Regions from separate parts of the Homo sapiens genome. Here region 1 is linked to region 2. Evidence: fine-mapped expression QTL. Tissue or cell type: whole blood. Region 2 holds a variant in brackets; the other region holds the start of a gene. All regions are shown on one strand. Distances are between the middles of the regions.

Region 1 (5,144 bases), 63 kb after region 2:
AGTTTCCACTCACTCAGACCTTCTTCTACAACCCTTGCTGTGCACCAGGGAACAAAATCAAGAATTGATTCCCAATCCCTTTGTCCCTAACATACCTCAGCATCTGAGGACCAAGTCCTAAGAAAGAGTCAAACAACTCCTTTGCAACCTCTGCCTGCCAAGACTTGCTATCTAATTGCTGTTAATTGCATTAATTGCACAGCTCTTAAGTGTTGTTGCTGTTTTTTGTTTTGTTTTGTTTTTGAGACGGAGTCTTGCTCTGTTGCCCAGGCTGGAGTGCAATGGCACAGTCTTGTCTCACTGCAACCTCCCCCTCCCAGTTTCAAGCAATTCCTGCCTCAGCCACTCGAGGATCTGGGATTATAGGTACATGCCACCACACCCAGCTAATTTTGCATTTTTAGTAGAGACAGGGTCTCACTGTGTTGGCCAGGCTGGTCTCAAACTCCAAACCTTGTGATCCACCCGCCTCGGTCTCCCAAAGTTCTGGAATTACAGGCATGAGCCGCCGCGCTGGGCCTCACTCTGAAGTGTTAAGACTCTTCCCCCTCCTCCTCCTTGTCTAAGGCAAAGCAAGGGACAGGAATTATGAACAACACAAGCTTCACACAGCAAACCTCTTCTCTTCTCCCATTCCCAACCCTAACACCCACTTGGTTCCACAGCTGACCATGACCTCCGAGCCCAGTAAGACAAAGCATTAAGAAGTGGCTGAGGACCAGGCACGGTGGCTCACTACTGTAATCCCAGCACTTTGGGAGGCCGAGGCAGGCAGATCACGAGGTCAAGAGATTGAGACCATCCTGGCCAACATGGTGAAACCCTGTCTCTACTAAAAATACAAAAATTAGCTGGGCATGGTGGCGCGCACCTATAATCTCTGCTACTTGGGAGACTGAGGCAGGAGAATCGCTTGAATCCGGGAGGCGGAGGTTGCAGTGAGCCACGATCGTGCCACTGCACTCAAGTCTGGTGACAGAGCAAGACTCTATCTCAAAAAAAAAAAAAAAAAAAAAAAGAAGTGGCTGAGGGCCAGGCACAGTGGCTCATGCCTGTAATCTCAGCACTTTGGGAGGCCGAGGTGGGTGAATCACCTGAGGTCAGAAGCCTGGCCAACATAGTGAAACCCTATCTCTACTAAAACACAAAAAAATTAGCCGGGCACGGTGGCGCACACCCGTAATTCCAGCTACTCAGGAGGCTGAGGCAGAGAATGGCTCGAACCCGGGAGGCGGAGGCTGTAGTAAGCCGAGATCACGCCACTGCACTCCAGCCTGGGCGACAGTGAGACTCTGTCACAAAAACAAAACAAAACAAAACAAAACAAGAAGTGGCTGAGTCTTCTCCGTGGGAGTGGAGCCAAAACAGTCCCCTGAGAACCGGATGGGACCCAGGCCCTAGAAGAGAAGGCATCAACCTACACATGCTGGACAGGTCGAGATGTGTCTAGGTCCCTTCCCCTCTATTCATGCCTGAAAGGGCACCCCCATTCCTGCCCCGGCTCTCCAGCAACCCTCTGTCTATTGATCAGAATCTACAACCACGTGTCTAGAAAGACCCATCAGAGACACCCTTGGCAACCTCCTCTCCCCTCTGCACACTGTAGGAGGCCAACTGAACTGCAGACAAGAGGTACATGGACAGGGACAATGTCACTGCTCCAAATGAGAGGACTGGGGTGATAGTGTGCAATGTAATTTCAGGCAAAGCCAACCCCCCGAAAAACAATCCCGTGACTGGAGAGGGAACAGCCCTGTCTTCAAAAATAGTCACCGAGTCCCTCTTGGTCAACCCCAAGGTTTCCTGAGGCGTCTCTAGTCAACACGGTAGGTAGCTGGGGCCTCTCTGAACCTCTTAGCAGGAACAACTGCTGCCAGGACCGCTCCCCACACCCAGCAGCAATGCCATTCTCTCAGGGGACCCCCGCCTTACACCCGCCCTCACTCCACCCCGTGTAAGGCTCCGGGCCAGAAGGATAGAGCTGGGAGTTTCCCCTATCACTGGGTGAGGCTACTCAGCTGTCCGAACTGACAGATGCTCTCCACGCCAAAATCAGCCTGCAGCAGCGTCAGAGCCCCCAAAGACAGGAAATAGGGGTCCCTAATCCCCAAGCACAACCTAGAGGTTCAAGGTGAACAGCTCTTAAGTACACCTCCCAAAACAGAGCTGCAGGATAGTGCTGCCCCGCCAGAGCACGGGGTGGGAGCTGAGCTACCAAAAGCAGATGGGAGGGGGCGGGGTGAGATCTGGGGAGACCCTGCAGAGGTGGGGGCTGGGCTGTTCTCTTTGAACCACCCCCACAGATGAACACGCCTGGAACTTGCCTCAGAGGCCACAGACCAACTTTCTGCAGCGAAGGGGGTGCGTGGAGCAGAGAGCCAGTGGGAGGGCGGCGGAAGAGGGGGCTGCGACCCGGCGCCCCACGTGGACGAAGAGCTGAAGCGCCGGGTGATGGGAGGGGGCTGGTCCATGCCTCCCGTCCGCCCCCAGGGCCTCTCCGGGGCACTCCCTAGGCCCTGACTGTCCCCACCGCCCGGGCCGGGGGGCTCAGGAAGGGCAAGGCGCTGCACCGCGGGCAGCAGAGTTGCGGGACCAGGTGGCCTGGCCCTACCTGCAGTTCTTGAAATTCTCCCTCCAGCTCGTGCCATTCGCGCTCGCAACGCTCCAGCTGCCCGGACATGATGCGATGGTGCAAGGCGGCGGTGCCGGCGGCTGCTCCCGCAGCGCTGCCCGACCGGCCCCCCAGCGCCCCACGCCCGCGCGCTCGCCGACCGCCCTCGGAGGCACCAGCTGTTCCTGCGCAGCCAGAGCCACGCGCGCAACTGACGTCACGGCCCCGCCCCGGCGCCCGCCCCGCCCCACGCCTGGGAGGCGGGGCCGCGCGTGCGCATGTGCCCCGCCCCGCCCCGCGTGCGGCGTTCCGGACCGGGACATGGCAGGCTCGCAAGGTCTTTCGGGGTCTGTTGCGGCCCCCTTGGCAGTGCCTCTGCGCCTCCAGAATCTGTCTCTTCCAGGAAGAGTTGGGGGACTTGTCTGCAGGTTGCATTTGCAGAGATTATTTGACTTAGATTGTGTGTTTTGGGGGTGTCTAGAGTTTGGGGAAAGGAGATTTGGGGGAGGTGAAATGAAAGCTCACCGGCCCCTGGTCATTGCCTGACTTGAGCCCAGGCCAGCGCCCCGGAAGGCTGGCGCTGACATCGACCATCCAAAAAGGTCGGGGGCCGGGCGGCGCAGCGCAGAGAGGGCACGGTCATTTCACGTTGTCATTATTATGTGCTGCAGCTAATACATCCTAGATTCCTGCCCTCTAACGCTCTGGGTGACGTTCTTAACAGCTGTTTCTGTCGCTCAAGGGACAACCGCCTCCAAGCTGATTAAATCCAGTTCTGTCCCCTCCTCTGCCAAGTCCTGCAAGAACTGCCCCTGCCTAGCTTTCCAGTCCCTTCTATCTCACCGCCCTGGACTCGTACCCTCCAGCCATTGCTTTTTCTCTTCCTGACCTTGCATGGAACTTTCTTCCCTCTAAATCTTCATACGATGTGCCTTTTTTTCATCATTCAGGCCTCAGTTTCAAATGACACCTGTGTTACTTTACTTTTTTATCTTTCTTTTTTCTTCTATTTTTATGGGTGTTTTTTTTTTTTTCTGTCGCCTAGGCTGGAGTGCAGTGGTGTGATCTCAGCTCACTGCAACTTCCGCCTCCCGGAATCAAGTGCGTCTCATACCTCAGCCTCTGGAGTAGCCAGGTTATACCACATCCAGCTAATTTTTGTATTTTTAGTAGAGGCGGGGTTTTGCAGTGTTGGCCAGGCTGCTCTCGAACTCCTGACCTTAAGTAATCCGCCCGACTTGGCCTCCCAAAGTGCTAGGATTACAGGCATGAGCCACCGTGCCCGGCCCCCTGTGTTCGTTGCTAAAGCTGCCATAACCACAACCTGGGTAGTTTAAACAATAGAAATGTATTCTCACCAACGGGGGCAACATAAGGAGACCTTGTTTCTACAAAAAATTTACAGATTAGCTGGGTGTGGTGGCACGCGCCTGTGGTCCCAGCTACTCCGGAGGCTGAGGTCCAAGAATTCCTTGGGCCTGGGAGGTCAAGGCTGCAGTAAGCTATGATTGCACCACTGCACCCCAGCCTGGGTAACAGAGCGAGACCCAGTCTCATAAAGAAAGAAGGAGGCCGGGCGCGGTCGCTCACGCTTGTAATCCCAGCACTTTGGGAGGCTGAGGCAGGAGGATCACCTGAGGTTGGGAGTTCAAGACCAGCCTGACCAACATGGAGAAACCCCATCTCTACTAAAAACACACAAAAAAATTAGCCAGGTGTGGTGGCACATGCCTGTAATCCAGTTACTCAGGAGGCTGATGCAGGAGAATCACTTGAACCAGGGAGGTGGAGGTTGTGGTGAGCTGAGATCGTGCCATTGCACTCCAACCTAGGCAACAAGAGTGAAACTGAGTCTCAAAAAAAAGAGAGAGAGAGGAAGGAAGGGAGGGAAGGAAGGAAAGAAAAAAAGAAAAGAAAGAAATGTATTGTCTCACAGTTCTGGCATCTAGAAATCTGAGAGGAAGGTGTCAGCAAAGCAGTGCTCCCTCTGAAGCTCTGGGCAGAATCCTTCCCTCCTCATAGCTTGTGGGTGTATGTGGTGGCGGGGGGCTCCTTCACTGGCGTTCCTTAGCTCGCAGCTGCATCACCCCAATCTCTACCCTGTTGCACCGTCTTCTTTCCTGTGTGCATGTCTGTGTGTGTCCTCTCTTAAAAAGACACCCTTTCTGGCCAGGCATGGTGGCTCACGCCTGTAATCCCAGCACTTTGGGAGGCCGAGGTGGGCAGATCACTAGAGGCCAGGAGTTGGAGACCAGCCTGGCCAACATAGTGAGACCCCATTTCTACTAAAAATACAAAAATTAGCCGGGCATTATGGTACAAGCCTGTATTCCCAGCTCCTTGGGAGGCTGAGATGGGAGGATCACTTGAGCTCCAGAGGTCGAGGCTGTAGTGTGTTGGGAAAAGCTGAGTGTTGGGAGAAGCTGAGGCAGGGCTTGTATGTCTGACACAATGTAAAAGAGTCTTGGAACATGTCCAGGGTCCAAGGTCTAAAACCCCTTGTGGCCTTTGGAACACCAAGCTCTGTGCTAAA
Region 2 (5,125 bases):
AAGTGCTGGGATTACAGGCGTGAGCCACCGTGCCCGGCCCAGGACTTTTAAAACAAGCATCCCAGGGGATTCCGGTGCCTACCAGAAGTCGCAAGCTGCTTGGCTCTGGAGGGCGCCTAGGAGTCGGTGTCGCCTAAGATGGGATAATGGCTTCAGGCAACTCCTAGCCTTCCCCATATCTCCTGCCTCAGCCCCCCTGGCCCAGTGCTGGGGCGTCAGCTAAACCTGAGCTTCCAAGAAGTCAGGTTGCCAAAGGAAGGAGCCTTCTGAGACCCTCCCCAACCCACCCAGGTTCCCAAGGCCCTGCCGTACCCTGGGGAATCAACCAAGGAGTTCTTGTTCTCGAAGAACCCCAGGCCTCATGATGGTCTACGGTAGAGGTCCAACAACTACAGCCTGTGGGCCACATCTGGCCACAGCCTGATTTGTAAATAAAGTTTTATTGGAACACAGCAACACCCATTCCTTTCTGCATTGCCTTGTGCTCTGGGGCTGCAGGTGAAGAGTAGCTGCCACAAACCACCTGGCCCATAAAGCTCAAAATAGTTGCCATCTGGCCCTTTACAGACAGCTAGCTGACTCCTAATCTAGGGCAAACGCAGGTGCCTAAAAAGGACCAGAAAGGAGACCAGAATGAAGGGCAGGGGGGTGGCAGGGCCTGTGGCAACTGGAGAGTAGGCGTCCTGTGCCACGGGAATGTTGCCAGGTCCGTTTTTCTAGGGAAAGCAGAAATCTGGATTTTTATGTGGAATCTCACTGTAGGGGTGGGGAAATCTCATTTTAAAAATGTAATCAGGCCAGGCACAGTGGCTCACACCTGTAATCCCAGCGCTTTGGGAGGCCAAGATAGGAGGATGAGTTGAGCCCATGAGTTGGAGACCAGCCTGGGCAACATAGTGAGACCCCATCTCTACTAAAAAGTATTAAAAAGTAGCAGGGTGACCAGGCATGGTGGCTCACACCTGTAATCCCAGCACTTTGGGAGGCTGAGGCAGGCAGATCACAAGGTCAAGAGATCGAGACTATCCTGGCAAACATGGTGAAACCCTGTCTCTACTAAAAATACAAAACAAAACAAAACAAAACAAAAGCCAGGCATGGTGGCACGCGCCTGTAGTCCCAGTTACTCGGGAGGCTGAGGCAGGAGAATCACTTGAACCTGGGAGGCAGAGGTTGCAGTGAGCTGAGATTGTGTCACTGCACTCCAGCCTGGGTAACAGATCGAGACTCCCATCTCAAAAAAAAAAAAAAAAAAGGAGCAGGGCATGGTGGTGTGTGATTGTGGTCCCAGCTACTCCAGAGGCTGAGGTGGGAGGATCCCTTGAGCCCTGGAGGCGGAGGCTACAGTGACCTATGATGCCACTGCACTCCCGCCTAGGCAACAGACCCTGTCTCAAAAAAAAAAAAAGTAATTAAAAATTTTAAAATTCCTTGAGGAGGGCTAAACAAGGCATGCCTGTGGGCACTGCTGTGAGGTCTGGCCTAGGGATTTGTAGGGCCACAGTTAGGGGGAGCTGAGGCCCATATATGAATGGTGGGGCAGAGCACTCAGCCAAACCTGGTGGCCTCTCTGCCTCCCGTCGAATGCAGAATCTCACCCAAGCGATGCCCAGTGGCTCTGACCCCGCCTCAGGGTGCGGCCCCTGGGGGTGAGCCTGCCAGGCACCCCCACCTCCCTCCCACAACATCCAGAAGCTCTGGGAAGGAGGGGGGAGGTGGTTCCCCTCCACAGGGGCCAAGGGTCTTGGTCCCACTCTCCAAGTACCTGCCACGACACTGCAGGAAGGTGGGCTGCAGGATGGGGGGGTCAGGGAACCCCGAAGCACAGACGGGAACGTCCTTGTCCCCTTGGACGACCCAGGGCCCGGGGCGCCCTCTGGTGGCGAATCTTCTCACAGCCTGACTCAGGATGCCCCCAGCGCTCCAGGGGCAAGAAGAGCACGAGGC[AGACGCG/G]GTGGGTCTCTGAGAACTTAAAATAACCCTCACCACGTGGCGGGGTGGGCGAGGAGGGGGCTCACAGCAGAAGCAGAGTGGCCCCGGGGTGGGGGCGCCACAGGACACTGAGGGTTCACACCACCCCAGCCTGGGCCTGGTAAGTAGCAGGTCAGCATAAATCCAACCCCGCGAGGCACATCCAAACCCCACCCAGAGGGGTTCAAATGACAGGAGTGGGAACAGAGGGGCTCCCTGAGGCTTCAGGCCCCATCCCCAGGAAGACTGGCCCGGCCTCAGCCACCTTCAAGCACAGGAGTGAGGCCTCGGGTTCCAGGGACGATGGGGGACCCAGCATTAAATATGTCATAAATAGGTGGGCGGACACTGTGCGGACAGGCGGGGCTCACATTCCTCTAGACCACTGGGGTCCACTGGGGGACCAGGGCCTGGGCCCTCTCCCAGCGATGCCACGGGCCTGAGAGGGCTGCTGGGAAGGAGCCCGGGAGCCCCCTGCAGTCTGAAGTCCGGGCCGAGGGCACAGGAGCCCGAGGCTCACGGCTGCTTTGTCTTGCCTCTGTTCTTCTGGAGCTTGGCATGCACGACTTTGAGCGTGGTCAGGAAGTTGCCGAGGAAGAGGATGAGGAAGGTGAACGCCAGTACGAACACCTGGGGGAGTCCAGAGAGGAGGGCGAGGCTGGGGCATCTGCCCTGCTGAACCCCTGCCCCCAGCACCCCAGAATCTCCAGCACAGCTGCCCCCAAACTCCCAAACTGCAGGGTTTTGCCATCGAAGGCAGAGATTCAGGAGACCTGGGGGAAGGGTGAGGCCTCAGGCTTGGGCAGGGCCTGGGAAGGGCTCGATGGGGCGAACCTCCTTGGGATCCACAGATTGGGAGAGGCTCCACCCCTAGCCCTTCCAGAAGCCTCCCGCCAAGCAGGCCCCCCACAACACCCCACACCTGCCAGCCCAGCCCGCCCCAGGAACCTCCCCACAGCACACCACACACACGCACACACCCCACCCCCACATCTGCCATCCCAGCCCTCCCCAGGAATCCGCACCCCAGCATGCCACACATACACCCCATCCCTGCCACCCCAGCCCTCCCGGGAACCTCCCCCGAGCATGCCCCCACCCCCCATACCTGCCATTCTCTGCATTCCTCGTGGCTGGAGAGCTCAAACAGCGTGACGGCATTGTAGAGCTGCCAGAACTGGAGAGGAAGGCAGGCGCTGCTCACCCACCAGACTCCCCTGGCCGGCCACGTAGAAAGCCAGGGTGATGGCCAGGCCCCTCACCCAACTTTGGGTATCAACTACCCACAACACTGACAGACACCCCCAAAATGAAATGCAGGCACCCGAGGCCAGGGCAGAGCTAGGTCAGTTCTGGCTCCTGCCTTGGCATCCCTGGGCCCAGAGGCTGCCCCGGCCCCAGGATGCTGTGGGCCCCAGCATGGGGACGGATGGAGAAGGAGGGCAAGGCCTGAAGACCTTCTGTTCCTGGGGGTCAGCCCAGACAGGAGATACCCACAAACTCCAGGGGGACTCACATGGCCACAGAAGAGGAAGGGCAGGAGAAAGGTGAGGCCCCGCCACATCCAGGACTGGAACCCTTCTGTGGAGAGGAGGGAAGAAAAAGGACCCGCTGAGGGGGTCCGCTGCCCCCACAGCTCCACCAGACGCCCACCCCCAGCCACACCAGTCACCCTAAGATGAGCCAGGGACAGTCACACATGCGGGGGGTCAGCCCTCACCTGTCATAGCTGGGTGGGCATTCACTATGACAATAGCAACCCTGTCACCTGGCCTGACTGCTCTCTCTCTTCAAGCCACCAAGAGCCAGGTGACAACACACAGACACTGGGCGCTATGTTGTTACTAATTTCTTTAATCTGCACAGGGTTTTGCATTTTATAATGAATTTTCACATGCATTAGTTCTATCGAGTCTTGAGACAGGAGGACCTACTTAGGAGAGTAATTTGATGGAAATGACTATGTCAAAAGACAGCAGAGTTGGCCAGGTGCAGTGGCCCACGCCTATAATCCCAGCACGTTGGGAGGCCAAGGTGGGCAGATCACTTGAGGCCAGCAGTTTGAGACCAGCCTGGCCAACAAGGTGAAACCCCATTTCTACTAAAAATACAAAAATTAGCCGGGCGTGGTGGCACATGCCTGTAATCCCAGCTACTCAGGAGGCTGAGGCGGGAGAATCACTTGAACCCGGGAGGCGGAGGTTGCAGTGAATAGAGATCGTGCCACTGCAATGCAGCCTGGGCAAGAGTGAGACTCCGTCTCAAAAAAAAAAAAAAAAAAAAAAAAGATAGCAGAGTTGTATTAAAAACAGTTTCCCCTGAAATTCTCAATGAGGTGTCTCCTCACTTTTCTGGCTGGCACTCCTATGGCTTCAGAGTGAGGCATGTCTCCCCCGTGTACATGCATTTATATACTTATACGTGTTGGTATGTAGACATGTTACACACAAATGGCTAATTTGTGTGTGTGTATTCTAGAACACACACAAAAAAATAGACACTTCCAGAGGCTGAGACAGAGGCCCTGCCCTCGGGGCCTGGTATGCAGCTGGCCTGGCACTTGGCAGCTGAAACAGAATCCAGGATGAATTCTGGAAGGCGCTTCGGATAAAGGGCAGCGGCCTGGCTCCGCTGTATGGGAGGTGCTCGCAGGGCTGCACTCCCGGTGTGGGGAGCTGGCAGGTCCAGTACCTGCCCCGGCTCCAACCCAGGCCCAGCTACTCACCCACTGTGAGATCCAGGTGGTTCCTCTCCCCCAGGGCCCGCAGCCGGTAGAGGCAGCCCCTCTGGTAATAATATTGCAGGAACTGGACGCAGCCTGCAGGGGGAGCACAGCACCTGGGCTCAGGGCCTGGTGTCCCCGGAAGACAGGGCCACACCTCTCTGCCCCAAGCACAGGCTGATGGGTCTTTACTGGGCAGAAGCAGAAAGGGTGCCCTGGTTACAACCCTCTCCCACGCCCACACACCACAAACAGACACACACACTCTGGTCTGAACCTGCTTTAGCCCTTATCCAGAACACAGAGAGAACACAGGTATGTGAGGACCCATCTAAGCCCCAACTAGATTTGAAACTTCTGGAATTTTCCATGCAGTAGACACTCAATAGATGCTTGCTGGAATGCAAGCTATGCCAGTGCTATGTTGGGAGC

What was found. PIP is the estimated chance that this variant, and not a neighbour inherited with it, causes the effect.
Region 1: TMEM120B starts here. The variant in region 2 is fine-mapped to the expression of TMEM120B in whole blood (TOPMed, PIP above 0.99).

Annotation. Positions count from the first base shown.
Region 1 is chr12:121,710,432-121,715,575 of GRCh38, reverse strand. TMEM120B (transmembrane protein 120B) reads right to left here and starts at 2,824. Exons shown (of 12, transcript NM_001080825.2): 1 at 2,612-2,824. The coding sequence starts at 2,680. RefSeq lists silencers at 2,353-2,482, 2,663-2,712, 2,723-2,982.
Region 2 is chr12:121,773,085-121,778,209 of GRCh38, reverse strand. TMEM120B (transmembrane protein 120B) reads right to left here. Exons shown (of 12, transcript NM_001080825.2): 9 at 4,697-4,789; 10 at 3,488-3,552; 11 at 3,080-3,148; 12 at 1-2,601. The coding sequence ends at 2,488. RHOF (ras homolog family member F, filopodia associated) reads left to right here. Exons shown (of 5, transcript NM_019034.3): 5 at 1-456. Among named protein-coding and RNA genes, the nearest start is that of RHOF, 18 kb to the left of the region's middle. RefSeq lists silencers at 2,933-3,227, 4,879-4,928. The variant AGACGCG/G (reference allele first, on the strand shown) is at 1,948.